Regions from separate parts of the Homo sapiens genome. Here region 1 is linked to region 2. A link means that fine-mapping ties the variant in region 2 to the expression of a gene that starts in the linked region. Tissue or cell type: nucleus accumbens. Region 2 holds a variant in brackets; the other region holds the start of a gene. All regions are shown on one strand. Distances are between the middles of the regions.

Region 1 (2,658 bases), 320 kb after region 2:
AGGCTCTTGACGCGGTTTCCTTCAAAGTTTTCACACCCCCACCCACCAGGTGCGCTAAGCTTTGGGTTTTTAAAATCTTGTTCATCTCCCAGAGTGTTTTAGCCATTGAGAGGGCCCTGAAAATAACAAAACCATCTCCTAGACACCTGCCCAGGGATGGGGGAGATGACGGGAGAGCCTGACTTAACAGATACTCTATAGGTTTCTATTTGGATGTCTATGTAAATAACCAGTCTAATTCTCAGCTCTCTGTGCTTAACATTCTACTGAGAACAGCTCTCTGGACCAAGCCGCTTCCCTGTCTGATGATGATCTCAGCAGGCATAGGTTGCACACACATGTACAAAGTCTGCTTTCCAGGACAGAAAGCCAGCTACTCAGCTGAAGCAACTGAGAGCAAACACCACCCTGAGATTTCAGGAGATGATGAACCCAGGAGTGCGAAATACATAGTTCAGAACTCCTCTGCGGTGTTATAACCGACATTACGGTGCCCAGTGTGTGTGGCTCTCCAGCGAGCCTTGCTTACTCTAAGTGTTGATGAATACAGTTAGGGTATGATGTACACAAACACCAGCCATAGTAACCAGAAGGCCCCTAGAACTTGGCCTCCAGCAGGAAGGAAATATGGGACTCTGCCTAAGTATGCTAAAGGGTTGCTGCAAGCCAAGGCCCGCGCAGGGGCTTCTGGAAGCTTCCTGGAGCAGCTGGCGGAGGGAAAGCTGGCAGCATGGAAGGGTAGGAAGAACCCGGGGCCCGGGCCTGGGGCTGGCACCTAGAGGTAAGGCAGGGGCTGCCACGACCCCCGCCACACGCCAGTCCACAGTCACTGCAGCGCAGCCTAGTCCAGGAACCCCAGGCCCGGGGAAAGGCTGGGCAACACCTGGGAGGCACTTGGGGCGCACCTGGAGCTCGCCCGGGATGGGTGGGGGTCAGGGCGGCCCCACACCCGACGGCGAAGTGAGGGCGCCTGCAGGACCACTCGAGGCTGCCACCGTCCCGAGGGAGAGCTCCGCACTCTTCCGGGAGCGAGGCGACCCAGACACTCACCAAGTCGCAAACGGTGCGCACCGCGAGGACCTGCGGGCGTCGGGACGCAAAGCGTTCTAGGGGCGCGGGCTGTCCCAGCATATCCGGGGCGCGGGGGCGGGGCCGAGGGGCACGGGGATGGCGGCGTGGGGCGGGGTCTAGAGCGGGGCGGAGCCGAGGACCTGAGAAAAGCAAGAGAGCGCGCGGGGGCGGGGCCGGGGCGCGCGGGGGCGGAGCTGGGGCGGAGCCCGGGAGGGGCGGGGTGTTCCCGCCCGACCGGGTCGGCGCATGCCCTGTGCGGCGGCGCCGGGCCTGAGGCAGTCTGCGCATCCTCGCTGGACGCCGGCACGCCGGCCCTGGTCCTCCGGCAGCGCCGCTGCCCTGTGCGCCTGACCCGGATGGCCCTTCGGCCGGTACAAGCCGGGCGGCGCCTTCCCAGCTTCCGCCTGAGGCTCTGTGCCTTAGTTTGCCAAATGGCCCGTACCTTTTCCTGTCACAGGGATAGTCCGCGGGCGTGCAAGCGACCTGCCACGTGCCCGAGTGGTCCTGAAAGCGCGCGGGGGTCGTAGGACGGCGCCCGCTTAGTGAGAATCCCGGTCCTGCTCGGGGCGGCTACGCTGAGCCCGGAGCGCGAGTCTCTCCCCTCCTGGTGCCGCTCCCCTAGTCAGGGACCCCCAGACCAGCAGAGACCCTGTCAGGGGGCCGTGGGGGCAGCCTCCAGGGCCTGTGGTGGGCGATGCCGTCCAGGGGCTGCAGTCACCGATGGCCTAGACACTGCCAGAGCCTGACTCAGCCGCTCTCCAGAGAGCACACAGGGTGCCAGGCCCTGCTTGGGGTTGTGTGGACGTTATTAGGAGTTGAATTGTGTCCACCAGAGAAGCTATGTTGGAGTCCTAACTCCCAGTACCTCACAATGTGACCTTATTTGGAGATGGGGACTTTACAGAAGCCATCAATTAGTGGGCCCCTCATCCAGTATGACTCGTGTCCTTATAGGCAGAAGGCCGCTTGGGGAGGAGGATTGGAGGGCTGCACCTGCAAGCCACCAGAAGCCTAAGAGGACAGACCCTTCCCTGGAGCCTTCGGAGGGAGCAGAGGACACTCTTCCCTGGAGCCTTCAGAGGGAGCAGGATCCTAACACACCTGGGTTTCAAACTTCTGGCCCCCGGAAGTGTGAGACAATAGGTTTCTGTTGTTTTAAGCCACTCAGTGTGTGGCACTTTATTATGGCAGCCCCAGGCAATGGGTACAGAAACCATTGTCTCTAACGTGGTTGGCATAAGCACCCCAGGGAGTAGTATCATCCCTGGAGGCTTCGGAGAGGTCACACACCCCTTGGCAGGATCCCATCCAAGGCCCACATGTTCTAAGCCACCATGCTACGGGCCTTCTAGGTTCTGTTTGTTATCTTAATGGAAAGGGGTCTTCACCTTCCCGGTGAAGTTTCCCTGTTGGGATTCGGCCAATGCTCATACCTTCGTATTTGTGACTTGCAGGATCCAACATATTAGCATGAGTGATAAGGGTTGTTCAGAGGAGAACTTCAGCAGGATTTGCTTTGGGATGAGCCCTGGTGACAATACAGGCTGCATCATTGATCCTCTGAGGTTCCCCACCCCGACCCTGCCT
Region 2 (2,840 bases):
ATCCACCTGTCTCAGCCTCCCAAAGTGCTGCGATTACGGGCATGAGCCACCGTGTCAGGCCCCCAAATTCTTTTTTTTTTTTTTTAATAACTTAAAACAGTTCTTTTCAGAAATGCTTTTCTCCAGCTGGTTTGTCAGAACCACATTCCTGCAAGGTTGGGCCAGAATGCTGTGCCCCGAGCAGCTCCATCTACTCTGCCAACAGCAGCCCTCCAGCCTCTGCGGGAAGCACGCCTCCCCACGCCAACACCCTGTAGACTCCTGGCCCCGTGGACTGTCAGGCAGTTATTTTGGCCTGGGACGTGGCTCTGCTAACTGGCTGCTGTGTTTTTCCAGTTGTGAGAAGAGCTTCCAGGGGAGTTCTTCAGATAATCATCATCTTGATCTTAAATGTAAATATTGTCACCGTGGTTTAAAGAGAGATTAATGATTTGCCGACAGCTCCATACATCCTTAGGAAGTGAACACTTGATTGTCTATCTTATTTCCAATAATACTAGAGGAAAAGGCACACCCTACAGGTGGCTGCAGGTGCCACCGGAGCTTGGAGCGAGTGAAGGCCGAGCCTCGGACTCGGGTATCATTTCTGAATAGCTCGCCAACTGTGAAGGAAGTTCTGCGGTTCTCTGTCACGGAGGAAAACAGCAGTGAGTGCCATCCGCCAGGCTGTGTGCCAGGTGTCCCGTAATCCCGTCTTTACCTTCTGGAGGAGCTGCGAGGCGGCGTCATTAGCTCCGTTTCAGAGAAGAGAAGGCGGAGGGCAAAGCAGGTTTGCTGAGGCATGGCCAGTCATGGGCAGTGTCCAGAGCCAAACCCGGGGCTTGCCACATCCGGCTCCCCTGACCTCGGCCACCACCAGTCTGTGGAAGCCCAGGCACTCCCAGGGGGAAGCTCCAGCCCTCAGGCCATGTCAGCACCTCCCTGTGGCTCCGACGGGCTCTGAGCCCATGGTCCCCTGACCTGGCTGCCCCTGCCTCAAGGTGCCGGGGTAGCAAGGCAGATGGCCCCTGGATAGTTCCCTTTTTGTTGTCCCCACGTGGCCTACAGCTGGCTAAGCAGGGCAGGGTGTGTGGCCGGCAGCCCTGGGGCTTCAGAACAGGTGTCTCAATTATGCCACCGCCTCCAAGACCCATCCCTCCTGATGCAGCCAGGCCCGCGGCTCTACCAGGGACACTGTGCGAGCATCAATGCCGGGAGGACTGGGACATTACACTCTACATCTGAATTTCTTATATTTTCCAAGTGTTCTACACTAATTAGTTAGTTCTGTTAGCTCTAAGGATTAGTAGCTTCTCTAACAAGACACAGCGACATTAAGTGACTTACCTAATTATGTAAAACACGGGGACACTAGACGA[G/C]AAGGCAAGCTTTCCTCGAGCTGGGCTCAGGCCTGCTCCGCCCCACTGCAGCGCCCATCCGTCTTCTTTCTCTGGGTCCCCAGGGCACAGGAAACAGGAACCGCAGGTCTGGCCTCAGAGACTACTCCACACGGAGTGTTGCCACACCTACGTCCTCGGGCCTGCCCTCCTTACGGCCTGCCTCCTTGGCCAGGACCACAGGGCCTCTCAGATGCTTCCTGGACAGAGGAGCTGACTTGAAAGAGAGCCTGTCCCAGGGCAGTAGGTGCTGGGCAGGCCTGGAGGCTCCATCACATGTGGCCGGGGTGCTGGGCCCACTGTGTCCCCTGTGAAAGAGAGTAGATGACCACCACGTCCTGCTGTCCTCTGACTGGTCACCATCTGAAATGTCACTAAGAACTGGCCCCACATTGCCTGTGCTCATGGCAAAGGGGTCTGCCCTCTCCCAGCCTGGCCCTCCAGTCCCCAAGTCTCATCTTGTAGGGACCGTGGCACCTGGGCCCTCCTCTCCTCTTCCCTGGAGTCCAGTTGCTTCTTTTACTCAAGATGCCCTCTATGTCCTGCCCAGCTCCAGCTGATGCAGTTTGATTGCCACCTCCTTCAGGACGCCCCTCTTCATTTTCTAGTTCACCCTTTCCCCTCCCTCTGAGACCTCACAGCCCTGAAGTGATACTGCATTTATGTTGATGTGCTATCTGATGACAGGCTGGGCATGACCTCACCTGGAGTATTTGTGCTCAGCTGCCCTGCAAGTGGAGAGGCGAAGCTGATAAACAGCTGGTCAAGCACGTGACACCAGTCACGTGGTCAGATGCGTGGGCCCATGCTGTCTTCTTAGTACATGTGTCAGGGTCCTTCCTCTTCACCCAGTAAGTGTGTTCTTTTATGATTACAAACATAATGCATTTCCATGGCAAAAATTGAGAATGTACAGTTAAGCACACAAAAAATGAAGTGATTTCCTCGTGCTGAGATAATCACTGAAGCACCTTGCTCTGCAGATGGTCTTTTTAAAAAATGTTACAACATGGCCATATATATAGTTTTAAAACACAATCATGGATCATATTTTCAAAGTGATAACAACTATTTCTTTCTTAGAAAATAAAGACATTTTTATAAGAGTTGAATAACTCTGAAAAGCAACACAACACACACACAGACACACTCACTCACAGACACACAAAGCAATTCTTCCCAACTCACTCACACACAGGCCCACACACCAAAGCGACTCTGCACAACTCACTCACACACAGGCCCACACACCAAAGTAATTCTCCCCAACTCACTCACACATAGGCACACAACCAAAGCAGCTCTCTCCAACTGTCCAACTTCCACTAAGATGTCTTCCTGCAAATAATCTGATGATCTCTCTTCCACAATTTTATGTCTGTAAGCACAATTTAAAAATTTAGTTTAATAAAACACCACTGATCGTACCTGATGTTTTCTTTTCTTTTTTTTTTTTTGAGACAG

What was found. PIP is the estimated chance that this variant, and not a neighbour inherited with it, causes the effect.
Region 1: it holds the start of MGMT, and the variant in region 2 is fine-mapped to the expression of MGMT in nucleus accumbens (GTEx, PIP 0.92).

What each region holds. Positions count from the first base shown.
Region 1 is chr10:129,465,689-129,468,346 of GRCh38, reverse strand. MGMT (O-6-methylguanine-DNA methyltransferase) reads right to left here and starts at 1,106. Exons shown (of 5, transcript NM_002412.5): 1 at 1,051-1,106. RefSeq lists silencers at 807-1,006, 1,027-1,466 and an enhancer at 318-1,240.
Region 2 is chr10:129,783,793-129,786,632 of GRCh38, reverse strand. LOC107984281 (a long non-coding RNA gene) reads right to left here. Exons shown (of 11, transcript NR_186705.1): 2 at 1,327-1,684. Among named protein-coding and RNA genes, the nearest start is that of MIR4297, 58 kb to the left of the region's middle. The variant G/C (reference allele first, on the strand shown) is at 1,359.